2 separate regions of the Homo sapiens genome follow, and region 2 is linked to region 1. Evidence: fine-mapped expression QTL. A gene starts in region 1. The other region holds a variant in brackets. All regions are shown on one strand. Distances are between the middles of the regions.

What was found.
Region 2: its variant is fine-mapped to the expression of RNF103 in whole blood (TOPMed, PIP above 0.99).

The regions. Positions count from the first base shown.
Region 1 is chr2:86,619,941-86,635,044 of GRCh38, reverse strand. It overlaps RNF103 (ring finger protein 103), which reads left to right and starts at 11,180. Exons shown (of 4, transcript NM_005667.4): 1 at 11,180-12,384; 2 at 14,576-14,715. The coding sequence starts at 12,159. RNF103-CHMP3 (RNF103-CHMP3 readthrough) reads left to right here. Exons shown (of 8, transcript NM_001198954.1): 3 at 14,576-14,715. The coding sequence starts at 14,584. LOC124907853 (a long non-coding RNA gene) reads left to right here and starts at 2,531. Exons shown (of 2, transcript XR_007087122.1): 1 at 2,531-3,183; 2 at 6,557-6,769. RefSeq lists enhancers at 1,710-2,233, 10,985-11,279 and silencers at 10,990-11,159, 11,240-11,779, 12,050-12,129, 12,310-12,359.
Region 2 is chr2:86,388,795-86,403,898 of GRCh38, reverse strand. No RefSeq gene overlaps it. Among named protein-coding and RNA genes, the nearest start is that of KDM3A, 45 kb to the left of the region's middle. The variant T/A (reference allele first, on the strand shown) is at 6,229.

The DNA of each region.
Region 1 (15,104 bases):
GTAATCCTCCTCGGCCTCCCAAAGTGCTGGGATTACAGGCGTTAGCCACCACCCCAGTCCACAAAATGTACACTTTAATCTCCCCCTTTTAATTGAGAGCAATTTCGCTATCTTGAAGTTCTCTTTCTCTTTCTTTTCTTCATGCTAACCAATTCCAATTTTCTTCATCTTTCCTTAGAAGACCTAATTTTCATACTAAAATTATATTTATCAAGCTTTTTAAGACTTTATTTTTGCCATGTGCTTAATTAAATTGAGCTTACTTTCAGAATTACTCTACCATAATGACTTTAATTTTTGAAAAATCCTTTTCTAGTCTCTCTGTAACTTAACAGACTTCCATTTGCACTACATTTCATTTAAAATATACATTAGCCAGATTGACACTTAAAACATGTTCACCCTGTGTTCTTTTGTCTAAAAATAGACTTATTAAGTGTCTTCTGTGTACTCTGGTACTGTCCCTATGTGTCATAGCAGAGATGCATTCCTATCAGTGTATGTGGGCACGTGTGTGTGTGTGTGTGTGTGTGTGTGTGTGTGTTTGCATGTATAAAACATATGCCTTGGACGGGCGCGGTGGCTTACGCTATAATCCCAGCACTTTGGGAGGCCGAGGCAGGCAGATCACAAGGTCAGGAGTTTGAGACCAGCCTGACCAACATGGTGAAACCCCATCTCTACTAAAAATAGAAAAATTAGCTGGGCATGGTGGGGCACGTCTGTAGTCCCAGCTACTCAGGAGGCTGAGGTAGGAGAATAGCTTGAACTCGGGAGGCGGAGGTTGTAGTGAGTTGAGATCACGCCACTGCACTCCAGCCTGGGTGACAAAGCGAGACTCCATCTCAAAAACAAAAACAAACAAACAAACATGTGCCAGGCTCTGGGCTAAATGGCTTCTAAGCTTTACTTCATTTGGTCCTCACAACACTTTTATGAGATCATCATTATTGTTTCCATTTTACAGATCAGGGTTAGAGAGGGGAGCTCTAACATGCTAGAGATTAGCCTGAAAGCACAGGAGCTAGGCCATGCAGATGGCATGCAGGAAGGAAAGAGGGTAGTATAGAAATAAGACTATGTACAAGGCAGCATATGAGAAATGCTACAAATACGTTTCTGAACACACATTTTCTGGACCTTCACTGATTTCAATAATTTGGTTGCAGAGGACGGATTTCATGGGTATGGGAACAGTGCAGCTGCACATGGCCCCAGGTTCAGAAGAGCCCTGCATGCTTGGAGTTTAATGCTCTGCAGTTGCTTGATATTCTTAATAATTTAATCTTTGAATTTGTGTCTTGAATTCTTAATAATTTAATCTTTGAATTTGTGTTTTGCAAGTGAAGTCCAATGGACATTGAAGCACGTGCCATTAGCTTACATGCGGTTCTGCCTGCTGCCAGCTCCCCACCTCCCTGAGAATAGGTCCTTGGCAGCCTGTTCTCCATTGCCTGGTTCCTGGGACCCTGCCCAGCCACCCCCTCTCCACATCTGCTCTCCCCACTGTGGCCCCTGCCTGCCTTTAACTGGGATGGCAACTATGTTGTGTCTGGCAGAGGTGGGGGTTGGGGGGTAACATTCTGCTGTCATCCTCTGCTTTCAATAGGGACCTGGAGTTGCACCCGGGGAGACTTGAGGCTGGGCATCCAGGGTCTCTTTGCAGCAGGGCCTGGCAGCACCACAACTGTTAGGGGGCAACTCGCCTCTGCCCCACCCCCAATCCAGGCACTGAGCTTGTCCTGGCACTGAGGTTTCAATCCCTTCAGGGCCAACCATCTGCTGCAGGTTGGCCCGGCACCAAGCATTGGCCTGTGGCTGGAGGGAGGGGGACCCCGGAGCCTGTGAGGACTCACACTTGCCCTGGGAGTATCCCCTGCCCAAAGGCGAACTATATTAAAGAGCAAATTTTAAAAGCACATCATGACCGACAGGTCAAGATAGATGGTGAAAGAAAGGAAAAGCTTTGTATTTCAGCACTTTTAATGGCACTTTTTCTTCCTAGCCTTTTGAACAAGGGCCTGCATTTTCATTTTGTACTAGGCTGGAAAATTATGTAGCCAGTCCTGCTGTCTCATGGTTAGCTTCAGGCAATCAGAGGAGGGAATGGTTTACTCCAGGAGGAATGGTGACTTCTTATTTGCTTATTCCACCCTTCTTTACCTTTGCCTTCAAAATGTTTATTCAGGGAGTCCTACTGCCTGCTGTTACTGGTGTTGGCAGAAGATAGCACTGGTGACTGTTTTCTGCAGAGGAAGCTGCCAACCGTTGATATAATTTCTTCTTTTCTTTTTTCTTTTTTCTTTTTTTTTTTGAGACAGAGTTTTGTTCTGTTGCCCAGGCTAGAGTGCAGTGGCACGATCTTGGGTCACTGCAACCTCTGCCTCCCGGGTTCAAGCGATTCTTGTGCCTCAGCCTCCCTAATAACTGGGATTACTACTGGCATGCACCACCATGCCTGGCTAATTTTTTTATTTTTGGTAGAGAAGGGGTTTCACCATGTTGGCCAGGCTGGTCTCAAACTCCTGACCTCAAGTGATCCGCCCACCTTGACCTCCCAAAGTGCTGGGATCATAGGCGTGAGCCACCGTGCCCAGCCCTGATATAATTTTTTGACTGTGCATGGGAAAAGGTGGTGGAAAAAAGGGAAATGAGAAATCAGGAATTTGAGATTATTAAACTGTGTGACTAACCATCACCTCCCATAACTGCAGTCCTGTAATGTTCTGTTTTGACGCTGTGTATTCCTCATTTTGGCAACCTCATCTTCAAGGAAATCACTCAAAAAGCTGACTGGCAGGCTGGCTGGCCAGAGTAGAAGAGCTGTTTATTATCGGGATGGCAATGTACAAAGCGAGCTGCCCCAGGGTGCATTCCTTTCAGCTTTATTGAAAGCCAGTTTCTACAGGTATCTCTCTGGTGAAAAGGCAGTCCTTCTTTTGAAGACACCAGCTCGAGTGCCAGATAGAGCTCGGAATAAAGCACTTGGCATTGCTCATTCCTGCAGATAATGGCCTTAATGCATTGGGAAAAGCAGCTTGGGACCAATGCTGTGGTGAGTCAGTCAACAGGGTCATCTCCACACAGGAAGGACAGGAAAGAGGCTCACAATCGCAGCAGGGGCTGGGCCTGGAGAAGGTATTCTGTGGCAAGTTGGATTTTCTCACAGCACCGATACAGTAGGTAGGTGCGTGCTGACGGCTTAATCTTAACTCTCCTTTTTTATTGACCATAAATGCCATATTTAAATCAACTATAAATGATACAATTACATACTGCCCAGTGGTAAGCTTTCAAAATGTAAATCAGTCTGGGAATACAGAAATCGATTATAAGTATTTTCAATGATCTTTGTTTAACTGTTTAGGGGACTCCCCGGAAGTGGGCTTGTGTAAGTGTGGGAAATGTGGGAGGAAAGGGCTAGAAAAGGGAAGAGGAGCTTGGGCTGAGAGGGAAGAATCCAGGGGGACTGTAGGTGGCAGGGTGTGTGTGTGTGCACCTCCTGGCTTCACCTTGTAACAGTTGTGGAACTGGCAAAGAGCCCCCAGGGCGAACTGCTGAAGGGTGAACTTTCCTAGGTCAAGGGAAACCCATATCATACTGTTTATTATTAGTCGCTAATGAAATTAATATTTATGTCCCCAAATGAAATATCGAATATGTCTACATGCTGGAGACAGACTTTTTTTTTTTCTTTTTGAGACGGAGTCTCGCTCTGTTGCCCAGGCTGGACCGCAGTGGCATGATCTTGGCTCACTGCAAGCTCCACCTCCTGGGTTCACGCCATTCTCCTGCCTCAGCCTCCAGAGTAGCTGGGACTACAGGCACCCACCACCACGCTCAGCTAATTTTTTTGTATTTTTAGTAGAGATGGGGTTTCACCATGTTAGCCAGGATGGTCTCGATCTCCTGACCTTGTGATCCGCCCGCCTCAGCCTCCCAAAGTACTGGGATTACAGGCATGAGCCACCATGCCCGGCCAGGAGACAGACTTAAAGTCACTTGCTTACCTGCCTAAAATCTGTGCCTAGCTGTGTTTATCAGCCAGATCTAAGATAATAAACCGACCCATCCCATCTATCTAAGTAAGATGCAGATTTCTAGCCTTTTTTTTTTTTTTACCATTTCTAGCCATTTTTACACTTTTTTTAAACCAAAATGTGTTCTTAATAATGCAGTTAGGGAGCGAAGTAAAGACAATAGAGTCTTTTCCTTTGCCTCTGTCTGCCACTCTCCTTGCCCCAACAGAAAGCAAGGTAGTGAAGGATTATTTTTCCTATGCTCCCAATTCTCAGGTTCCTGGGAGCCCGGGCCTTACTCCCCTGGTACTCTGGAATTGACTGCGTCTTGGATGCAGACGGCTCTATAGCAAATATATATGTATGTATGTATGTGTACATGTGTGTGAGGGAGCGATATGTATATCTCAGCTAAAGATGAGAACAAATCCCAGGGGCCCCAGGGCCCAACTCTTTCATCCCTAGTTTAAAGGGCCTGCTATAGAGCAAAGGTCTCAGGGCTGTGCTCTGGGCCCACCCCACTCCCTGGCCACACAGTCTGGAAAGGGCTAGAGGCTGTTTTTTAGGGTCAGGTCTGAAAGGGGTGGGCATCACTCCCACTAATTACAATTCAGTCACTTACCCAACCTAACTGCAAGAAAGGCCATAAGGTATGGTCCGTTTAGACTCCTGGGAAGACACAATGACATGCTGGATCCGTGGCATGACCTCTGCCACACTAACCAGTTAGTGCCACAGAACCCAGGAAAAGTCAGAAATGGGAAGCACAGCGCTTTAGAAGCCCAGGGTGGAGGGTGAGGCACAAAACCGAGGATTTGCCCAAAGTCTCATAAAGTACAGTTGGGCCCTGTGCAGCCAGGCACTTGCCCCTCTCCTAGCCCAGTGGAAGGTGGGAGGTTTATCCTCTGAAGTGAATGGATTGGCTCTCCTAGCTCAGAGCTAAGCAAGGGAGAAGAGATGAGACACCCTACTGAAAACCATGGGATTAGGCACAAGCCTAACGGCTAAGACTTGATAACCCCAGCTCCTTTTCCCACTCAGTCCCAGAATGCTGGCAGCCATACTTGAACTCTCTAGGCAGGATTCCTCTCTTAAGAAAGAGAACAGCGTGGAGAAAGGACTTATAGATAGATCCTCCCAGTGAAATGGGTAGGGCTCTTCTCTTTCACCTACAGTGAGCCCCATTCACTCTCAAAGAATTTCTAATGAGCTTTTCAGTGCCTCAAGTTTATGGACCTGTGAATACAGACCCAAGAATTACTGAGCAATTAAAGGGAGCCTCTAATGTGAAAGGCAAAGTCAAAAGCAAACAAATAGAAAATGAATCCAGAGGCACTGCAAAGGGCAAAAGAAACCTCAGGGGGGACCACTATACTTAATATCTTCAGAAAGATAGGAGAATAAACATATTGCATACATAAAAAGAATAGGATGCCACAGAAAAGGCACATCCCAGTAACAAGAAAGAGCTTTTGAAAATGAAAAAGGAGTATAGACAAAATTAGAAATTTAGGCAGTTATGGTGGCTCACGCTTGTGATGCCAGTACTTTGGAAGGCTGAGATGGGAGGATCCCTTGTGGCCAAGGGTTCGAGACCAGCCTAGGCAGCATAGAAAGACTCCATCTCAACAAGAGAAAAATTTTAAAATTGGCTGGGCACAATGGTGCATGCCTATGGTCCCACCTACTTCGGAGGATGAGCCAGGAGGATCACTTGAACCCGGGAGTTCAAGGCTGCAGTGAGCTATGATTGCACCACTGCACTGAAGCCTGGGTGGCAGAGCAAAACCCTGTCTCTAAAAAAAAAGAATTTAGTAGAAGGAGCAAAAGATAAAGGCGAAGACATCTCTTAGAAAGTGAAATGAATGGCAAAGAAAGAAAAACTGGAGAAAAAAGAGAATACAATTATAGGATCAATTTAGGAGTTCCAACATCTTGCTAATGAAAATGGACAGAGGAAATTATCAAAGAAATTCCCAGAACTGAACGTCATGAGTTGCTATATTGAAAAGTACTCAACATAATGAAGGGAAGGAAACTTGGATTAAGGTATATCATAAAAGTTCAGAACACCAAAGATGAAAGGAAGTTCAAAAAACATACAGATAGAACAAACAAGTCACTTTTAAAGGGCAGGAGTCAGAACGATGCTAGCCTTCCAACAGCAACAATAGAAGCCAAAGGCTAATAGATCAGTGCTTTCAAACTTCTGAGGGAAAATGATGTCCAGCTTAGAATTCTATATTTGGCCAAACTATCATCCAACATGAGGATAACTGCAACTAACTCTCAAACGGTTCACAAAAAAAAAAAAAGTATGCGCTTATAATCTAGAGAAAAGATGTAATTCAACAAATAGGGCAAAAGGTTAACAATTGGTGAATTGGTAAGGACACTTTTTGTAATATTCTTGCAAGTTAAGTCTTCTCCAAGTTTGATAAAAAAAAAAACCCATACAACTAATGGGGGTAAAATAAAGGAATTTTTAGACATGTAGGGCATCCAAAGTTTATCTCCGTGCCCACTTTCTTACTAAGCCACTGTAGACGTGGAGGTGTTCATGCAAACAAGAAAATGAAAGAACTAAAGTGCAACCATGGGATCAAGAAAACAGAGAATCCAGCACAAAAGAGAAGAGACGGGAAGTCCTGAGACAACAGCTGTGGGTGGCTCTGGACAGGAGCCAGGCTGACCTGGAGTGGGAGGACTGAGGACAGAAGGTTTATTTCCAATAAAATATGAAACTAATAGATTAGCTGTTTGAGTAATCTTAGAGTTCAGAGAGTTTGGGGATGAATAAGTGGCTGGGGCCATAGAAAATAGAACAAACCAAAATTTGAGTTAATTATTAACTCCAGAGGCAATGAACAATTGCACAAGAAAGGTTTCTTACATGGTTCAGCTATGAACAAGATTTATATGGGCATATTAATATAAAGATGAATATATAATATAATCATGTTGGGAATGAGGGGAGGGAAATGGTGTATGAATACAGGGCATAAAAGACAGAATTCCTCATCGTCCATAGTAAGAAATCAATAGATAATGTATAAAATGGAAAAAGCAAGAAAAGCAGTAAAAACCTATTCTTTGAAAATATAGAGGTAAACATGAAAAAATTGCTAAAATAATTGAAGGCAGTGTCTCTGAGGAATGGGAATCAGAGATGGTAGGGAAAAGCAGGGGATGTGGTCTTTTGTTTTGTTTTGTTTTGTTGAGACAGGGTCTCACTCTCTCACCCAGGCTGCAGTACCGTGGCGGGATCACATCTCACTGCAGCAGCCTCAAACTCCTGGGCTCAAGCAATCCTTCCGCCTCAGCCTCCTGAGTAGCTGGAACTACAGGAGGGTGCCCACCATGCCCAGTTTATTTTTATTTTTTGTATTTTTTTGTAGAGACAGGGTCTCACTATGCTGCCCAGGATGGTCTGGAACTCCTGGGCTCAAGTGATCCTCCTGCCTTGGCTTCCCAAAATGCTACAATTACAGGTGAGCCACCTCTTCTGGCCAATGTGTTTTTTTATAAGCAGGGTTTGTCAGGGACATTCTCAGTTTTTCCTCCCTAGTCTGGTATAATTTCATTACCATTGCCCCTTTTACTCCCAAAGTTGTCCCAGTTTTGTATGTAGCCCTGAAATGCTACTTCATTTTTTAAACTATGTGTGCATGATATTTTGATAACAGTGAAATAAAAAGAGAAGGCTCTTTGGACCTTAAATAAAATAACTCTGGTTCATCAAGCTCAGTCAAAGACTTTAATTTTCTTTTTTCCAAAAACCGATTCTTGGTTTTTTTTTTTTCAATTTTTACCCTCTGTACATTAGAATGTATCCAAAAACTAATTCTTCATTTTAAATTAATTACAAGCAATGTGTACTTCAAAGCACTTTTACAATCACTCACTCATTTAATCCTTACGACAGCTTCATAGGGTAAGCATCCTATCCCATTTTATAGATAATAAAAATGAGGGGCCGGGCGCAGTGGCTCATGCCTGTAATCCCAGCACTTTGGGAGGCTAAGGCAGGCAGGTCACAAGGTCAGGAGATTGAGACCATCCTGGCCAACACGGTGAAACCCCATCTCTACTAAAATACAAAAAATTAGCCCGGCGTGGTGGCACGTGCCTGTAGTCCCAGCTACCTGGGAGGCTGAGGCAGGGGAATTGCTTGAACCCAGGAGGCGGAGGTTGCAGTGAACTGAGATCGTGCTACTGAACTCCAGCCTGACAACAGAGGAAAACTCCCAAAAAAAAAAAAAAAAAAAAAAAAAGAGGTTAGGGAGGTCTTCTGATTGTCTACCAAGGTGACACTAGTCCACTGGACCAGGCCCTTTAATTGCAGTTTGCACACTCTTGCCACAATATCAAATGATAAAGCATTTAAGCCATCCTACATATGAACAGAATCTGAGATATAAAACCAATAACCCAGATTAATAGCCTATTAGAAAAACAGATTATGAAAATGAATAATTCATACATTCTTCTGTTTTTGAAAATAAATTCTAATTAGTCTGCCCAGCTAGGCTTAGTGGAAACTGAAATCAATCTCATGGGAAGACAGCCCACACCTCCAACCCCTGTCATCTTTGGAGTCCCAGAGGATGAACCGCTGCCGCTAAACCTCCGGACCAGGAAAACAGTCCTAGTGGGTTTTTTTGTTTTGTTTTGTTGTTGTTGTTTTTTTTTTAGATTACAAAGTAATACATGATTATTTCAGAAAATATAATAAAACAGAGATATAGCATAAAAGAAAAAATATTCTAAATCCCATCACTTAGAGGTGAATACACCTAACAATTTAGTGGATACATCTCTGTCTTTTTGTAATACAGATACAAAAATAGGATCATATGACGCAAACTTCTCAGTCACCTGGTTTTTTTCACCAAACACTATATTTTGGACATGGTTCCATGTCCATAACCGTGTGTCTACATTTTTCTTTTTAGTGGCTGCCTCATGGTTCATCATTTGAATTACTGTATTTGATCAATCCTCTGTCACTAGATATTTGGGTTCTTCCTTTTTTCTTTCCAGCATTAACTCTGCAACAACGACGAAATTCTATACACACATCTTTGTGCCCATGTCCAATTATTCCTCAAGATAAATTTCCTGAAGAGAGATTACTGTGCCAAAGAGCTTGTATTTTATGGGGGGCTTCTAACCCACATTGTATACCCCACCAACATAGAATGTGCTTGTCCATACTCTCTTATTCAGATGACCCAATGTGTTCTCTTATCAATGCTTTTATCCCTCCTGTGGGTTAACCATGAATGAAACAAAGCAAGGGGGTTGGGATGGGAGGCAGTTGAAACAAACAAGAAATTTAAAAAGAGTTCTTTAATTCCTTCTTTCTAGTCCCTCCCACACTCTAATGTTTTTTTCCAATTTGGAACTCTGGCCTGACTGGTTCCACCCTCAGCTCACACACCAACTTTCCCTGCCCATGCCTATTCTGTATTTTTGAGATTGGGTCAGTCTCTCCTCACTAGCGAGTACATACATTCCTTTGAGGTGAGGGACATCACCTTCAGTGTCAAGGTTTGGACAATATCATCAAAGGGTCACCAAGACATGCCCAAGAATTCTGAAATTTCAGAACCAGGCTTGTTAGAATCAGTTGTTTAACACAGTCTCCCACACTGATCTGCCAGCCACGAGAACAAAGCCACATGGAAGCTAAAGACACAGGGGCAGTGTCCAGTTGCTGGCTGGACATTCCTACACCTCCTCCTCTGATTCTCAATGCTCCCTGGGCCCATCCCCTTCCAACTCCTCCCCCACTAGCCCGGCACTGAAATGCCCTTGTTCACTTTATTTTAAATGGGCACCATTCGGAGGCTACATTCTCACAGTCCATTCTTTGCTTCCCGTTCCTCCCTTGCTCCATGACCTGGGATCATGATCCCTTTCTTCCTAAAACTTTCACCCCTAGTTTCAGATAGTTGACAGTTTTGCACAAATAGTAACATTTCCCCGTAATTACTGTTTTTTTTTTCCTTCCTTATCAAAAGGGGCTGGTCAAAGCCAACCTTGTTCAGTTTATGAACCCAACTCCTTCCTCCCTCAAGACTGACACAGAGATTGACGTAAAGAGTACGCTCGGCCCGGTTAAATTTATAAGCACAGAACCAGGTATCGCATGCTTGTCCATGTGACTCTTTTTTTTCTTTTCTTTCTTTCTTTTTTTTTTTTTTTTTTTTTTTTTTTTTTTGAGACGGAGTCTTGCTATGTCACCCAGGCTGGATGGAGTGCAGTGGCGCGATCTCAGCTCCCTACAAGCTCCGCCTCCCGGGTTCACGCCATTCTCCTGCCTTAGCCTCCCGAGTAGCTGGGACTACAGGGGCCCACCACCACGCCGGCCTAATTTTTTGTATTTTTAATAGAGGCAGGGTTTCACCGTGTTAACCAGGATGGTCTCGAACTCCTGACCTCGTGATCTGCCCGCCTCGGCCTCCCAAAGTGCTGGGATTACAGGCGTGAGCCACTGTGCCAGGCCCATGTACAAAATAAAGCACCCGGAACTTTGCACCTGGACTTATCTACACTCGACAATCTTTGTCCTAGGAACTCAGGGAGTCCACACCAGGCTTTTAACACCCTTGAGACTGAAGGAGGGAAAAGGCTGTAACTGGCAGCGACAACTGGGCCTAGTATAACGCGAACTCCAGTTTTGGCCAAACCTCCTCCAACACACATGTGCAAAGCCACATTCTCATGAAGAGGGGGCAAAACATTTGCTTTCTGGGTTTAACCTTCTACCATCTCAAACCAACTGTGCCAAAAATTTCCCTGTTCACCAGGATTCATCAAAAAACGTACATTTCTATTTTCACCGATTTTAAGAGAATAATTAACTGCTCTATTTTTACAAAAAATACACAAAGTGATACAATCTAAAGACTAATCCTCAGACAAAATCAATTGCTAAACATTGGAGGGGCAAAAGGGGAGACCACGCCGCAAAAGCACGGAGAGGCAACTTTCGGCACCGCGGGAAGGCCCCGACCACGCTGCGGCTCCGCCTCTCCTCCCGCCCCTCGTTCGGTAGTCCGGTAGCCCCGCGGCTCCCCGAATTCCCCGCCCTCGGCCCCTGCGGGCGCACCCTGCAGGCCCCGCCCCGGCCCCGCCTCATCGCGACGTCAGTTGTTATGTCTCGGCTCCGGCCGCGGCCGCCGCTGATACACGGTTGTGGAGGGTACGGCCGCGGTCTCCGGAGGTGGCGGGGGTGTTGGGGACGGGTGCTGCGACCGGCACTGCCCATCCGAGCGGGACGGGCGCTGAGTGGCCGGGAGGCAGCCGGGTAGCCGCCTGGAGGAGCAGTCTCGGGGCCTATTATTGGTTTTTTCCCTCCGAGACCGATTCCATCTGCAGAGACCGCGACGCCCCATCCTGGGCCGGGCCGCAGTGCCCGCCCGCCTGAGAGGCGCCGCCCGCCAGCCGGCCCGAGCGAACCTGGAGCCGCCGCCGTGCCCGCCGCTCTTCTCGCGGAGCCTGGGCGGTCGGCGGGGCCTGGGGCCTGGGCTTCGGGCGCGGCGTTGCGGCGGCCGCTCCTCCCCGCGCAGAACACGCTGGGCCCCGGGCCTGGCCCGGCCGAGCGCCGCGCCCTCCTGACCCGCGGCCGCGGGAGTCCGGCCCCCACGGCCCCTCGGGCCCCGGCCTGCCGCCCGGATCCCCGCCTCCTGGGCGGATCTGAGTTATTTTTTGGTCTCCCCCTCCCCCTTGAGATCGCGGCACCGGAGGGCCGACCCCGCCACCTGGGTCAGTGCCCGCCCCGGGGGAAGCGTCCCTCGTTTTGTTCTTCCCCGCGAGCTCTCCCCGCGCCCCTCTCCTTTCTGTGCTTAATGGATGGGGGTTTTGAGTTTTTCCCCTTTATTTTTGTCGGCTCTTGACTGGGAGGCCCGGCGCGAGGCTCTGCGTCTCTGCGTCCCTCGTCGCCGCCTCGCGCCCGCGCGGATCCCGTCACCTGCTTCCCCGCCGGGGATGGCCGGCCAGTGACGGCGCCGGGTGGCCCGCGCGTGGACACGGGGCCCTCGCCCAAGCTGCCACCGAGCCGCGGCCCCCGCCCTCGACCCTTCTCTCTCCCGTATTCCGAGCTCTCTGGAAAGAGAGGAAACTCCAGGGAAGATGTGGCTGAAGCTTTTTTTCTTGCTCCTCTATTTCCTGGTCCTGTTCGTCCTGGCCAGGTTTTTTGAGGCCATTGTGTGGTATGAAACTGGCATCTTTGCCACCCAGCTGGTGGATCCGGTGGCGCTGAGCTTCAAGAAGCTGAAGACCATTTTGGAGTGCCGGGGGTTGGGCTACTCAGGGTTGCCCGAGAAGAAGGATGTCCGGGAGCTGGTGGAAAAGTCAGGCGAGTATCGGGCTTCCCCTAGGGTCCCCTCCACCTGGGAGAGGGGACGACCTGTACCTCCTGGTACCTGGCTGTTCCCCCAGAGTGAGGCCTTTCCTGGAAGCGTTAAAGCTGCCCAGGTTTCTTCGTCCAAGCTTCCTACAATCAAGTATGCGGATCCCAGCTTTGAGGAGGAGTCTGAAATTATTTGGAGGAGTGTTGGTGTATCCTTTTAAGGTTATCGTAAAATGACAGTTTAAAGTGTGGCTTCTTAGCGTTGTTTACTAAGTTGAGTGATTTTCTCAAAATTCTGGAATATCAACTAGTTACAAACTGGAAAGCATTATTTGTCAGTTGAAGTTCATAAAAACGTAAGAAAAACTCCAAAACGTTGTCTGTCAATAGCAATATTTGTCACGATAGTAATAATAAGATACCCAGAGTGGGGACACATCTTTGGAATACTTACTATCAGAGGCACTTGGGCCTAGGATTTAAATGTTAAATCATGAGTTTGAATATAGACAGTATACACCGTACAGTATTAGCTTTTCAGACTTTAAGTTTGGTGAAAATAAGGCGAGCATTTTGTATAAATGCCTGCCATGTTCGAGTTTATATTATATTTCTGTTAGGATTTTTAAAAATTTGCATCTTGGATGTGTAAAAGAAAAATTTTTTTTGTCTTCTGTGTCACAGGTACCCTTGCATTGTTTAATGGGTTGAGAAATATACGTGAAATAGTGCTGAGAGAATATTCAATGTCTTAAAGAATGTGTTTTTAGTAATTGTTGGTTTTGGTAGGATTGGGTGAGAAATATGGTTAATTTTTTTCACTGCTGCACAAAGTATATCTTTGGATATACTTCCTGAAAGTGGAATGTAATTTGAGAAAGGCTTTCTGCGTTGCTGTGGGAAGCAGCTGAAACTGATGGTTATCTTTTTTGTTGTTTCAAGTATTTTTGTCAGCTGTATCTTTTACAAGACAAATCTTTTCCTTCTTTAGTACCTTATAGACATGTAGCGTGATAGACAAGAGTATGAGCTCGCTAGCAGTTTAACACTTGGATATTTGTAGGTTGCGGGTTATAAAACTCATATCTCACTATTAGGGTAGAGGAGAGGAACACACTCTGCAGAAGTGATAAATGTTTCTTTAGAGAAAATATAAAATCGTATATTATTCTTGCCCCTTGTTTGCTGACTGGTTTATGGCGATTCTTATTTCTACCATAGGGGGAAGAAGTGGAGTAACTAGGGTAAAAGATCTCTAATAAATAAACTCTCTTGGTTTAGAGATGAGAAGTGTCTCAACTGCCAAAGCCATCATTTTTTTATGGAAAATAATTTGGTCACACATTTTTTTTTCTTTTGACTGTTATTTATTATTGCCTTCTTTTGGGCCTAAAAATACTTGGCACATTGAATGTACTAGAAGTCCACATTTAACTTTAAGACGCACAGCCCAGTATGACTCAAATCACACGTTTTATGGCAGAAAAGTCATGGTATAGCAGTTTAAAATTTAAGTGTTTATTGTGAATGGTTTTGCTGCTATCATGGTGCAGTACTTGGTTTCTCACTGTTTAATATTTAAGGCGAAAGTTAAAATAATTTGATTTTAGTGTTTTCCTTTCCTTTTTGTTTAATGATACAAGCTCTAAATTTATAATATAAATTTGTATATGAATATGGAGTTTGTTCTGTCTAACAGGTAAAGTTCTAACCTCCAAGTCATACAAACCCTGTTGCTCTTTTAAGCAGGGCTGATGGCAAATTCTGTGAACCCAATTCTACATCTTTTAAGTAAGAAGCATATAAGCCATACTGTTTAAAAATGTATATGAAGCCTGTATGTGTCATTCATAAAACTAAATAATTAAGAAAGTTGTGCCTTTTTGGAGTGGTACAAATTTGGTAAGTTCCTAATAATTATGTGATAACCCCACTAAAATATAAGCCCTGTTCTATAAGAGATGGATTTTTGTCTATTTTGTTCACTTTTCCCTGATGCATAGGAAGTTCTTACTACATATTTATTGAATGTATGACTCCTAAGTGGGTATATCCAGGTTCTTCTAGTAGTTCTTGTCTATAAAATACAATGAAAGTACAATATCATGATTCTTAACAGTGTAAAAAATAGAATTACTGAAATTGGGAATCTAGGATTCTTGCAACCTTATTAGTGTTATTCTTTTCCTTTCTTCAGGTGACTTGATGGAGGGTGAGCTCTATTCTGCTCTCAAGGAAGAAGAAGCATCCGAATCGGTTTCTAGTACCAATTTCAGTGGTGAAATGCACTTCTATGAGCTTGTGGAAGACACAAAAGATGGCATCTGGCTGGTTCAGGTATGAAAAGCAGTAATAATTTGATAATTCGAGAGCCCTAAAAAAATTATTTTTACCAAAATAGTATGTACCAGCCAGTGACACTTCCGTGTCCTTGTGTCTTGTTTCTCACACATAACTCAGTTCTCTTAGGGAGGCTCCAGTATCTTCTTAAAAAGGTTTTGGAGACTGAGGAAGATGAAAATTGAGTAGTGGGAAAGAGAAAGATGGGGGATGGGGGTCAACTTTTTGTTTAGAATCCCCAGAAGCAAATCTATTTTAGTTATTGGACCTTTGTTGAATTGAGAAATACACATATATATCCCTTTTATTTAGTGATTTGCACTGTTTCTCTTAGTTTTTATTATCTCCAGTTTTTAATTCAGTGGCCTGAGTAATTTTTATATATA
Region 2 (15,104 bases), 230 kb after region 1:
GACCATTTCCAGATATTTTAAATGGTTTTTTTTTTAAAATAATTGTCACCAGTTTCACTGAGGAGTGGGTCCACAGTGCCCCTGACACTGTCATGCTAGCAATTTCTCTTCTTTGGCTATGGGCTACTCATGAATGGGGAATGGGAAGGGAAATGATGTCCGAAGTGAGACAGCTCCCATTTGGCTGAGGGCAATTCTCTGGAGAAAAAGTCAGCCATGAGCTGTTAGCGGCCAACTCCACAGCAGCTGGGGGATGGATGTCTTACTCACATAAAGGGATCTGGGTAGGCGACAACAGAGTTCCATTACATCACTCAGAGCTGGGTCTAAGGTGAGGTGATTAAGGCACCCACTCTCAGGGTCACACAAGTGCAGGCTTGATACCTGAGAGGGAGCACATCCTTAAATCGTCCCCCAGTTTCCTCACTTGCTTCACCCTGGCCCTGGCCCCAACACTGCTACTCATCCTTTCATTCCTCCACTAACCATGGCTGTGCCTTTCACCCCACCGATAGCTCCTCCTTGAGGCATAACCAATTCCTCAACCTCCTGTGCATAATATTACCCTGTAAATTCTTCCATTGCAATACATAGGGCATTATATCATTTTTGTGTATGTGTATCTTAGTTTTTCCCTCACATCTTGCTCACTCACTGGACATTGCTCCACAAAGCCAGGAATACAGTCTAATTTTTTCCAACATCTTTAATCCCAAAGCATACTAGGCATTCAATAAATGGTTAACCAAAAAAAAAAAAAAAATGAATAAATGAATAGATGTTGAAAGAATCTAACAAGTCACCCAGTTCCTACTTGACAGTAAATCTATGAAATGCATATTAGAGCTGGATCCCCTCTTCGAGGGCATCTAATCTAGTGCTTCTCAAACTTAAATACAATTTACAATTGTTTTAAACAGAAAAAAAAATTCACAAAATCCCTGAAACTCATTTTGTGGACCCCAAGGTCCTTGTCCCCCAGTTTGAGAAAAGCTCACATATTGTCTTTAGAAATGGTTTAAACGATTTTTGACATTATCATCAAATGAAAGCAGGAAATTAAAAATTGCTCTTGGAACTAGGCCTCCTGCATATACCCCTCAGATCTCACCCCAACCCCTCATTTTAACTAAGTTTGCTACAGCTGGGGACTTGGAGTCTGCATTTCAGTTCTTCCAATGTTTCACTTTGGAGATTGGCAAGTTACTTATCAGAGCCTGTTTCCTCATTCATAAAGGTGCAATAATAACATTGATGTCATGGGGTTGTCACAGCCATTAAATTAGAAAATCCAGGAAAATGCTCTGGAAACTGCCCTGGGCCATACACATTTGTAATTATTGCTCATGGGCAAAGCATGGCACAGAAAGCTTCAGACCTTTCCATTAGCACTTTTGCCAGGCATTGTGGAGATGGGATGGAACCCAGTACAAGAGAATAGGGGATCTTCTCTCCCTGTCTCACATTGCTGGCAAGTCAAGATTGCCTTGTTTGCTCAGCTAGGAAGGATGGAGGCTTCCCCAGGGTACTGTTCTCTACCCTGGGGTGTTGTTCTGTTTCATTCACTACCTTCTTTTTTTTTTTTTTACATAGTTTATTTTTATTTTTATTTTTGAGAAGGAATCTCACTCTGTCACCCAGAGTGGAGTGCAGTGGCATGATCTCGGCTCACCACAACCTCTGCCTCCCAGGTTCAAGCGATTCTCCTGCCTCAGCCTCCTGAGTGGTTGGGACCACAGGCATGGGCCACTATGCCCAGATAATTTTTGTATTTTTAGTAGAGATGGGGTTTCACCATGTTGGCCAGGCTGGTCTCGAACTCCTGACCTCAAGCGATCCACCTATCTCAGCCTCCCAAAGTGCTGGGATTACAGGTGTGAGCCTGTAACACTGTAACACACTAAAATGCACTAAGACAACTTTGTGATGATTAATGTTGGGTGTCAACTTGACTGGGCTAAGGGATGCCCAGATAGCTGGTAAAACAGAGAGCTGGTAAACAGATTAGCATTTGAATCACAGACTGAGTAAAGAAGATCCAACCTCACTCAATGTGAATGGGCATTAATCTATTCATTGAGGGCTCAGATAGAACAAAAAGGCAGAGGAAGAGGGCATTATCTCTCTCTTGAAGTGGAACATCCATTGCCCTTGGACATCAGAGCTCTTGGTTATCAGACCTTTGGACTTTGGGACTTATACCAACTGCCCCCTACTTCTTAGACCTTTGGACTTGGATTATATGTTACAACATTGTCTCCACTGTTCTCAGGCCTTTGGACTCAGACTGAATTACAACACTGGTTTTCCTGGTTCTCCACGATGCAAACAACAAATTGTGGGACTTCTTGGCCTCCATAATCATGTGAGCCAATTATTATAATAAATTTCCACATATATGTATACAGAGAGAGAGAGAGACAGAGACAGACAGAGGGAGAGAGAGAGAGAGAGAGAGAGAGAGAGAGACTGTGCCTGACTTATAATGGCTCGACTTTACAATTTCTTTACTTTACAGTGGTGCAAAGGCAATAGGCATTCAGTAGAAATTATACTTTGAGTACTCATACAACCATTTTCTGTTTTTCACATTCAGTATAGTATTCAATAAATTACATGAGATAGTCAACACTTTAGTATAAAATAAGCTTGTGTTAGATCATTTTGCCCAACTGTAGGCTAGAGTAAGTGTTCTGAGCGCGTGTGAGGTAGACTAGGCTAAGCTATTATGTTCAGGTAGGTCGTGTGTATTAAGTGCTTTTTTTTTTTTTTTTTTTTTTTTTTGAGACAAAATCTCACTCTCGCCCAGGGTGGAGTGCAGTGGTGCAATCTCAGCTCACTGCAACCTCCGCCTCCCGGGTTCAAGTGATTCTCCTGCCTCAGCCTCCTGAGCAGCTGGGATTATAGGCATGTGCCACCACACCCAGTTAGTTTCTGTTTTTAGTAGAGGTGGGATATCATTATGTTGACTGGGCTGGTCTCAGACTATTCACCTCAGGTGATCTGTCTGCCTTGGCTTCCCAAAGTTCTGGGATTACAGGCCTGAGACAACACACCTGGCCCCTTAAGTGCATTTTTTTTTTTTTTACTTATAATATGTTCAAATTATGCCAGGTTTATCAAGATGTGACCCCATTGTAAGTTGAGGAGCATCTATATATCCTATTAGTTCTGTTTCTCTGGAGAACCTTGACTAATGCAAGCCCAGAGCACCCACTGCAGGGTCAGCCTGGAGCTCCCCTCCTTGGGACTTGCTGGAAATTGCACCTTGCTTACCTGCTGTGCTTTTGTTGTGTTGGGGGTTTTCGAGTGGTCTGAGTTAACCAGCTTCTCCAAGAGTGATATTTCCCCTTCAGTTAGATTTGCATCAGACATGAGTCTTAGACACTGTCTAATGCTCAAGGAATTTATTCTGGCAGCACTTTTATAAGACAGGAGCAGGCTGGTGGCATGGGCTAGATACAGTCAGGGGATCAGATGACAAATGACAGAGAGGGTCTCCATCTGGAGACTGTTCTCAGAGTTTGGGGGATCCTTCCCCCTTTCTTATACCTGCATTCAGTCCAGGTCAATTACCTCAGTTACAAAGTGTTTCTTTCATAAATGGAGTTGAAGCTATTCTTGTAAGAGTAAGCTTTGTTTTATGATTTATGAAAGTTGCATCTATGCTGAGGTGGCCTTGTCTCCTGGAAATCCATGGACCAGAGTTGGAAATCTCCAGGTCAGGTTGTAGCATACTACCAAGTGACCAGTAGTACCAGCCCTGCAAGATGCATGAGTGGGCCTTATGGCTGCCATTAATCTTATAGCCATGATATGCCTCTTCCAGTGTACTACACCTTTCCCCGTCCTGCTGCCCCCCACACCCTCAGAGATGTCTTCTGGAATAAGTCGACTGCACAAGACTGCTTCTGAGGAATCTCTCCTAAATGAGGGAAGCCCAACCTTCTTAGTCCCTTTGGGCTGCTGTAATGAAGAGTAATATACTGGGTGGCTTATAAATAACAGAAATTTATTTCTCACAGTTTTCTTAAATTATCTGAATCAAATTTAACAGTTCTGGAGGCCGGAAATCAGAGAACAGGTGCTGGCATGGTTGGGTTCGGGTGAGGGTTTCCTCCAGTGACAGACAGCTGACTTCTTACATCCTCACGAGGGAGAGTGTATTAACTCTCTGACCTTTTCTTATAAGGGCACAAATCCCATTCATGAGGGTTCCACCTTCATGACCTTATCACCTCCTAAAGGCACAAACTGCTAATATCATCACACTGGGATTAGAGCTTCAACATAAGAATTTGTGGGGTGGGGGGACACACACTTTCAGTCCATTGCACCAACCTAGCAGAGACTTTCCAGTTTGGCTTCAGGGACTCCTTCTCAGGCTCCTCTTCACATTTGACACCATGGGCCACTCTCCTTCCAAAGCTCTTTAATGCGACACGGCATTCTCCAGTGTCTGCATTCTCTCTGATGCTCCTTCTCTGCTTCTTTCTCTGGCTCCAAGTACTTCCTCCAGTCACTAAGGGAGTGTTCCTCAAAGTTCCTTTGTCTTCTCTTCTCTCTCTACACTTTTTGACTTGCTGATCTTACTCGCCATCATGGCTCAGCCAGTATCTGTTTTCTCTCCTGAGCTTCAATCTCGCATTACCAACAAATCTCCCATATTACCAACAAATCCTGGTAGCTCGTCTTCACCGTGTCTGGAATGGACTCTTCCTCCAACCTGCTTCCCCTCCCTGTCTCCTAGTTCTGTGAGTTGCTCCTCCACCCCACTTCAGTGTCATCTCAGGCTCCTCCCTCTACTTTGTTCCCCTTCCCAAGCAGTTGCCAAGGCCTCTTGATCTTGTCTCTGCAATTCTTGACTCATTCACTCTCTCCCCATTTCACCACCACCTCAGTAAGTTGAGTCCATATGTAAGTCCAAGACCATCCATGCCTTCTATTTAGTCTTGCATAATTTCTGGTCCTATCCCAAGATATTACAAATGTTGGGACAGATCCTGGGATCCCAAATTTCTTTTTCTGAAAGCATCACTAATGGATTCCATGGCTGTTACATCTGTTTATATCTAGTAGATTCATGTTATCGTGTTCATGTCAGAAGATATTAATACTGGAAATTATAGGCATTAGTGGTCAAAAAAGAAAGAAGCCCTAGACATTTGTGGAATAGAGAGGAGAGATGACTTAAATTCTTTGTACCACAAGCTATGACTTAATAAGTCTCTTAACAAAGGTTACTATAAAGTAAATGAGAAAATACTCATCTCATGGGCATGCATTGAGCTGTAAAACCACAGTAATTTGCTGAAAATAACTGGATCAATATACCTTTTTTATGAAACTTTGACTAAAGTGGTTCATTTATATTATCAAAAAGCAAATAGCTTGTTCCAACTGGGTAAAAGTTATATAAATATATCACCGACACCATCAAAATAGAATTCAAAAAATACCGACTTACTATTTCACTGACTTAATTTCCTCCACTGCAAAATTTAGCATGCATCTGTGTCGTAGGTAATTATTTATCTCATCTGCTCATAATAGCAACATCCTTCTTCCGGGAAACTGCCCCCTAGCCACATGAGTCTGCCATTTGTGATACTCTGTGTTCTGGCCACCAGTGAATGCAGGTGACACAAGTGGAGTATTAACTCCCAAGGGCTTGGTTTGGGCCGGGAATTGACACATGACCTAAGCCTGGCCAATCAGAGTTTTCTTGTTAGATTTTTATCATTCAAACTTGGAAAGGAGAGCTGTGGTTGCACACGGTGTGGATGTAATGCTGGGACTGCCCACGGCCACATCCCTTATCTTATGGAGAAGCCAGTCTAAGAAAACAAAGCTAGCAAGGAGATAAGAACAGAGCCCCAAGGACAGTATGAGAGTCCTGGCGGTTTAAGCCCTGGATCCAGCTGAACCTACTCTTTCTATAGTCTTTCTCCCTGAGCCAATACATTTTACCCTTGTGCCTAAGCTAATTTAAAGAGTTTTGACCAGCAAATCCTTGTAGGCAGAAGATATATTTTCTATCAATCTGTGCCTCTTGGCATCTAGAGCAAGTGAGGGTTTTAGGAAGACCTGCTGATTGATTAAAGACTAATTTATTAGACAATTATCCGAATCAAATTTAACTGAGTCATTTCTTTTCTCCAAGACAGGCATGCAAGTGTGCACGAGCATATGCACATCACATACTCACATACACACACAGACTAAGTT[T/A]GGTGGCCAGGCATGGTGGCTCATGCCTATAATCCCAGCACTTTGGGAGGCCAAGGTGGGAGGATCGCTTGAGCTCAGGAGTTTGAGATCAGCCTGGCCAACATAGCAAAACCCTGTCTCTACCAAAAAATACAAAAATTAGCTGGGCATGGTGGTGTGCACCTGTGATCCCAGCTACTTGATAGGCTGAGGTGTGAGAATCACTTGAGCCCAGGAGGAGATCTTGAGATCACGCCACTGCACTCCAGCCTGGGAGACAGAGTGAGACCTCATCTCAAACAAACAAACAAACAAACAAACAAAAATAGACTAACTTTAGCATTCCCCATTTAGCAGACCTGGAGAGTGTGCATGTGTGACCGAGTGTACGTGCACACACACACACAGTCATCCAACTCACACAATACTCTTTTCTAGGAATACAGAAAAGCTTCACAGGTCATACTGGCAAAACCAAGTTGTTTTTTCTTTCTTTTTTTTTTTTTTTTTTTTTTTTTTGAGATGGAGTCTCGCTCTGTTGCCCAGGCTGGAGTGCAGTGGCGCAATCTCGGCTCACTGCAAGCTCTGCCTCCCGGGCTCACACCATTCTCTTGCCTCAGCCTCCCGAGTAGCTGGGACTACAGGTGCCCACCACCACGCCCAGCTAATTTTTTGTATTTTCTAGTAGAGACGGGGTTTCACCGTGTTAGCCAGGATGGTCTGGATCTCCTGACCTCATGATCCACCCGCCTTGGCCTCCCAAAGTGCTGGGATTACAGGCATGAGCCACCACGCCCGACCAAAACCAAGTTTTTTAGGGAATGTTTTCACATTATGTATAAGATGGGGAAGAAAAAGAGTATTATACAGCTTTCATTTTGTTTCAGGGACTGTGCTTTGTGTTGTAATATATTTCCTCTCATTTTCTTACCACAAAATTCTATCAGGTGCACATTATTATCCCCATTTGACAGATGAGGGAGCTGGAGACATGAAGCTCAAGGCCACACAGCTGCTATCTCTATCTGGAATTCAGCATGGACCCTGGCTTGTGGACTATGCTGCCTCCCTGTGGACTATGCACTGCTCCAGAGGCAAAATGGAGACCACAACAATCCATTTCTTGAAACACAGCCTAAGTTTCTAGAATCAAGATAGGTGCATAGCTAAAGTATTTGTCTATGCAAATAGAAACGGGCACAACGGAAAGACCAGGGTCATGAAGGGAAAGTCAGCGAAGGGCGAAGGGGGTGGGGGGCAGAGAGCCAGGAGGTTTGCTGAGGCATTAACCGAGTCCCACGGCTGGCACTGGCTCTAGACTATGAGCTCACCCATACACAATGATCATGGAGCCTGTGCCACCTGATCCAGGGCTTGGCACAGGGTAACTTCTCAGTGTTTCTGACTGAACTGGGGGAGATTTATTGAATAGCATGGGAAGGAGTAGCAGTCCTCAAAATACTGCCTCCAGTGTTTTGTCCACGAAGATGAAGAAAATAACCAGATCTTGCAGCAGCACTGAAAACTACGACCAACAGGCAATCAATAGACAGATAAATTGGGATCTGATTATGAGGCAGATATAACCATTTTGAGGAAAGCACCCAAGCTACAGCTCCTGGTACGAACCCCAGCTTTGCCTTCTGAGTGCTGGATGTAAGTAAGCAAGCTTGATTCTTCCATCTAGGTTTTGTCCTTGGGCTCAGACACACAAAACATAGGAAGAACAAAAGCTGGCATTTAATCCACCCTCTAAATCCCTTGGATATTTATTTATGCACTTTGTGCATTTTTTGTACACTTCCCTTCTCTTTTATACCCTCCATTCTCACATCCCATATTTCTGGAGATAGAGGCTACCAATTCCAGGGAATGGGGCAGTAAGTGAGTCTTGTGTATGTGTATGTTGAGTGGGGGTTGGGGGAAGTGAGTGTGTGTATAGTACATCTTGGGAAGTTAGTTCTAGGAGTAAAGAATTATCGGGCCAGGTGTGGTGGCTCATGCCTGTAATCCCAGCACTTTGGGAGGCCGAGGCGGGCAGATCCCCTGAGATCAGGAGCTCGAGACCAGCACGGCCAACGTGGTGAAACCTAGTCTCTTCTAAAAATACAAAAATTAGCCAGGTGTGGTGGCAGGCACCTGTAATCCCAGCTACTCAGGAGGCTGAGGCAGGAGAATCGCTTGAACTCAGGAGGCAGAGGTTGCAGTGAGCCAAAACTGTGTGGGAGAGACCCAAAGGACCTTGCAGTAGTTCATCCAAGATATTCCATTCATTTAGGGAAACAGAGGAATGCAGACAGGGAGTATGAGAAAGCTGCCATATGGGTAGTGCAACGCTTCCCTGGGAAACAGGCAGGGAAATCAACCTACTCCAAGCTGTAGATTTGAGAAGAGAAACCAAGCACTGTGGAGATGACGACCCACAGCCACCCACCCCCAAATAGTCTGTGTGATCACACCTTGCCTTGTTTGATGCGGAGTGAAGAGAACTGGATTTATAACAACATTTAAAGTGACATTTAAATAATTTAAAACAATATTGGATTTACAACAAAATAATGATTTTTTTTTAACATAGTCTTGCTCTGTCACCCAGGCTGGAGTGCAGTGGCATGATCTCAGCTCACTGCAACCTCCACCTCCTGGATTCAAGCAATTCTCCTGCCTCAGCCTCCCGAGTAGCTGGGATTACAGGTGCGTGCCACCATGCCTGGCTAATTTTTGTGTTTTTAGTAGAGATGGGGTTTCACCATGTTGACCAGGTTGGTCTCGAACTCCTGACCTCGTGATCCACCCGCCTCAGCCTCCCAAAGTCCTGGGATTACAGGCGTGAGCCACCGTGCCCGGCCCTAGCTATCTTTCTTTTATCAATTTCTGATTTAATTCTATTGTAGTCTGAGAGCAGATATTGTGTAGTTTCTGTTGTTTTAAACTTGCTAAGATAGGTGCATGGCCCATAATGTGGTCTGCCATGGTGAATAGAATATATTTTTTACTTTTTAGTATGTGGAAAAACAGTATAATGAACTATATTTTCATCACTAGGCTTCAACTGTTATCAACACATGGCCAATCTTATTTCATCACTGGTTTCTCTCTTCCTGGCTAATTTAAAGCAAATTTTAGAAATTATATCATTTTATCAATAATTGCTTCAGTATATATTATAATGTGGGCATCACCATTGAGAATGTGGTCCTTAGGAATTCAACAAAATCATCCTGTACCAAGACCCACTGATATCCTTGCCTTTACCTACCCTACTCTATGCCCTATACCTTGGCCCAGGCTAGATGAATCTAATTTGTCTCTGTGCACTGAAAGGACTCTGCAGGTGGCTGATATAAATATGCCTTTGGGAAGCTACTTCGGGTGGCCAAGGGGACAGTATTGCAGTTGGCAGTCTGACTCCAGCTGTCACCACTTGTGAGCCATGTAGCCTCAGACAAGGCATTTAACCTCTAGAGCTGTATCAAGGTTTTTCTCTTCTGATTAAATGGAGAACATAAAACCTACTTCACCAAATTGTTATGAAGCTTAACTAAATAAAAGTGAAAGTCAGGTTAGTCATTATTATCACAGTTTATGCAGCAACACAATCATGTCAGGGAAGTCTTTAGTGTAGGGATTTCTTTTGCATACAGGAAGCCCTGTGCCAACTTTAGAGAGTCCAGAAAACCCCATGAAACCACAAGACCTAGGCACCAATTCCCAGAACAAGGCTGAATTTAGTCCCTGATAGAGTCTGAATCCTGACTATGGCAAGCTAGGCAACTCAAACTGTCCATTGTGAACTGGGCATTATCTAATCCACTGAGTCATAAAATTGGAATGTGCAGCAGTACTCAGTATAAAATGGAAATGGTGTTTACAAGATAAGGCCCAAGCAGGTATAAAAGGCTCAAGAATATTGCATAAGCAGGTGGCTCACCCTCCCACATTTTTTGCTTCTACTACTTTACCACCTCTCTCAGCCCACACCAGTGGCCTCAAGGGGAGTTGCCTAGGACTAGCTGACAGAAGAAGAAAAAGCACAGGCTTGGTTTGCAGTGGGTCTGCATGATAGGGCTGCAAGTGAACAGCTGCTGTTTTACAGCTCCCCTGAAGAGTGAGTCTGAAAGGCAAGGGTGAAAGGAAATCCTCTTAATAGGCAGAATTTTAAGCAGTACATCTGTTGTCCACTTACTGTAGAAGGCGAGATGCCCTGGAGTATGCAACTATACCAATTTATGATCAAGGATTAATGGATTAGAAGAGTGGTCACTGACTTCTGAGGAGCAAGATTGGAAGACTAGTGACAAGGAAGTCTTCAGGAAGTATGTGAATTAACTCTTCAAAACAGGCACTAAAAATGTACATATTTGTAACCACTATGAATGCTCACCAAAGGGCATCTACTGAAGAGGCAGCTCTCTGTGGTCTAGTGGAGTGCACAAAACAACCCATGTGTGGCTGAAAGTGATTTCCTTTCCCTAAACATTTTGATGCTTACTCAATGGGCCCATAAACAAAATGTCCACGGTGGCAGGGGTAGATTTTACATGAGCTCACCAAGCTGGATTCCTCTCGCCAAGATTAATCTAGCTAACGTCACTGCTGGGTGCCCAATGTTCTAACAGCAGAGATAACACTGGGGCCTCATTATGACACCTATCCTTGGGCTGCCAGCCAGCCCCAATGTCTTAGGTTGATTATACTGGACATTTTCCATTGCGGAGGAGACAGCAATTTGTCTTTATGGGAATAGATACTTATTCAAGATACGAGTTTGTCTTCTATGCCCACCATAGAAGTCCTTCTGCCAGCACCATTTGTGGGCTTAAATAATGCCTTACTCAACATCTGCAACTCACACAAAATTGCCTTTATTAAGGAGATCATTTTATGGTGAAGGGCATTCTATAGACGTGAGCTCATTACTTGTATCTATAGAATTCACTGTTTTTGCCATGTGCTACACATCACCCCAAATCAGCTGGCTTGATTAAACAGTGGAATGGCCTGTGGAGGGCTCAGTTACAGTGACAGCTGGGAGGCTAGGGTGCTGCCCCATAGCATGCAGTATATGCCATACACCAGTGGCCAAAACATGGTTATGGTCAAACTCTTTCCTAAAATTTTCCTCTGGATCTTTCAGAGGCTTTGCCTTCCTTTTAATTCTTCCTAATGCTATTTTCTCTTAAAAAATTCATCATTGGCTGGGTGTGGTGGCTCATGCCTGTAATCCCAGCACTTTGAGAGGCCAAGGTGGGTGGATCACCTGAGGTCAGGAGTTCCAAATTTCATATGGAACCAAAAAAGAGCCCATATAGCCAAGACAATCCTAAGCAAAAAGAACAAAGCTGGAGGCATCATGCTGCCTGACTTCAAACTATACTACAAGGCTACAGTAAGCAAAACAGCATGGTACTGATACTGAAACAGATATATAGACCAACGGAACAAGACAGAGGCCTCAGAAATCATGCCACACATCTACAACCATCTGATCTTTGAGGAACCTGACAAAAACAAGCAATGGGGAAAGGATTCCCTATTTAATAAATGGTGTTGGGAAAACTGGCTAGCCATATGAGAAAACTGAAACTGGACCCCTTCCTTACACCTTATAAAAACAGTAACTCAAGATGGATTAAAGACTTAAACCTAAGACCTAACACCATAAAAACTATAGAAGAAAACCTAGGCAATACCATTCAGGACATAGGCATGGGCAAGGACTTCATGAATAAAACACCAAAAGCAACGGCAACAAAAGCCAAAATTGACAAATGGGATCTAATTAAACTAAAGAGCTTCTGCACAGCAAAAGTAACTATCATCAGAATGAACAGGCAATCTACAGAATGGGAGAAAAAATTTGCAATCTATCCATCTGACAAAGGGCTAATATCCAGAATCTATAAGGCACTTAAGCAAATTCACAAGAAAATAACAACCTCATCAAAAGGTGGGCGAAGGATATGAACAGACATGTCTCAAAAGAAGACATTTATGTAGCCAACAAACGTATGAAAAAAAGCTCATCATCACTGGTCATTAGACAAATGCAAATCAAAACCACAATGAGATACCATCTCACGCCAGTTAGAATGGCGATCATTAAAAAGTCAGGAAACAACAGATGCTGGAAAGGATGTGGAGAAACAGGAACGCTTTTACATTGTTGGTGGGAGTGTAAATTAGTTCAACCATTGTGGAAGACAGTGTGGCGATTCCTCAAGGATCTAGAGCCAGAAATACCATTTGACCCAGCAATCCCATTACTGCATATATACCCAAAAGATTATAAATCATTCTACTATAAAGACACATGCACACGTATGTTTATTGTAGCACTGTTCACAATAGCAAAGACTTGGAACCAACCCAAAGGCCCATCAATGATAGACTGGATAAAGAAAATATGTCACATATACACCATGGAATACTATGCAGCCATAAAAAGGATGAGTTTATGTCCTTTGCAGGGACATGGATGAAGCTGGAAACCATCATTCTCAGCAAACTAACACAGAAACAGAAAACCAAACACTGCATCTTCTCACTCATAAGTGGGAGTCGAACAATGAGAACACATGGACACAGGGAGAGGAATATCACACACCAGGGCCTGTTTGGGGGTGAGGGGTTAGGGGAAGGATAGCATTAGGAGAAATACCTAATGTAGATGATGGGTTTATGGTGCAGCAAACCACCATGGCACATGTATACCTATGTAACAAACCTGCACGTTCTGCACATGTATCCCAGAACTTAAAGTATAATAAATTTTAAAAAAAGCAAAACTAAAGAGGTGGCTAACACAGTCATGTGGTTTGTTTAAAAAAGAAAAGAAAAGAAAAGAAAGATAGCTGGAAAATAGCCAAATACTTGGAGATTAAACAATACACTTTTAAAGAAAACATAGGCCAAAGAAGAAATCTCAATAGAGATTTAAAGATATTTTTAACTAAATAAAAATAAAAATACAACTTATCAAAATTTGTGGTATATAGTGAAAGCAATACTAAGAGGAAAATGTATAGCATTGAATTTATATATTAGAAAAGAAGAAAGATGTAAAATCAATCATCTAAGCTTCCACTTTTGGAAACTGCAACAAAAAGAGAAAATTAAATGTAAAGTAACAGAAAAGATAAATAAAAATTAAAGCAGAAATCAATGAAATTCAAAACAGAAAAGCAACAGAGAAAATCAACAAAGCCAAAAGCTGGTTCTTTGAAAAGATGAAAAAAATTGATAAGCCTCTAGCCAAGCTAAATAAGGCAAAAAGAAAGAAAACACAAATTACTAATATAAAAAATGAAAGAGGGGACATCACTACAGATCCCAAGAACACTGAAGGAATGATAAAGGAATACTATGAACAACACTGTGCCCATAAATTTGTTAACCTAGATAAAATGGGCCAATTCCCTGGAAGTCACATTTTGCCAAAACTCACCTAAGAATAAATAGACAATCTGAATAGACCTATAACAATTAGAGAGATTGAATAAATAATAAATTTCCAAAACAGAAAGCACCAACTCCACATGGCTTCACTGGTGAATTCTACCAAATATTAAAGGAAAAACATATACCTATTTTCTACAATCTCTTCCAGAAGACAGAAGCAGAGGAAGTACACCTTAACTTATTTTATGAGGTCAGCATCAATCTAATAACAAAATTAAACAAAGGCATTCTAAGAAAATAAAACTACAGACCAATATCTCTCATGAATATAGATGCAAAAACTCTCAACAAACATTAGATAATTGAATCTAACCATGTATAAAAAGAATTATACACCATGGACAAGTGGGATATACACCTGGTATTCAAGACTTGTTCAGCATTCAAAAATCAGTTAATGTAATCCAACACATCAACGAGCTAAAGAAGAAAAAGTACATGATCATACCAATAGATTCAGAAAAAGCATTTGACAAATTCCAATACCCATTTATGTTAGAAACTCTCAGCAAACAGAATAGAGGGGACCTCCCCCAATTTGATAAAGGGTATCTACAAAACAGTATACAACTAACATCTTATTTAATGGTGAGAAACTCAAAGCTTTTTCACAAGATCAGGAACAAGGCAAAGATGTCCCATCACACCATTCCTTTTCAACATTGTATTGGAAGTCCTAGCTAATACACAAGACAAGAAACAAACAAAAAAAGGTACACAGATTGAGAGAGAAGAAACAAAACCGTCTTTGTTTGAAGATGACCTGACTGTCTATGAAGAAAATCCAACAGAATCAACAAAAAACTCCTAGAACTAATAAGTGATTGTAGCAAGATTGCAGAATATAAGGTTAATATACAAAAGTCAATAACTTTCCTTTATACTAGCAACAAACAAGTAGAATTTGAATTTTAAAACATGTAACCACTTAAACACTGATGATAGAACATGGTAAAAAATAAAAATAAAGAAATGAAAACACACTACCGTTTACATTAGCACCCCTCAAAATGAAATACTTAGTTATAAATCTATCAAATATGTATATGATTCATATGAACGGAACTGTAAAACTCTGAAAGATAGCAAAGAAAAACTAAATAATGGAAGAGATATTTCATGTTCATGGATAGGAAGACTCAATATTTTCAAGATGTCAGCTCTTTTCAATTTTACCTATGCATTCAATGCAATCCAACTCAAAATCTTAGTAAATTATTTTGTGGATATCTATAGACCAATTCTAAAGTTCATATGGAGAGGCAAAAGACTCAGAATAACCAACTCAATATTGAAGGAGAGGAAGAAAATCAGAAGAGTGACACTACCTGGCTTCAAAAGTTATTACAGAGCTATGGTAATAAAGACAGTGTAACACTAATTTTTTTTTAAGCTTGATAATGTTTTGTTGTGTTTTGAGACAGACTCTCACTCTA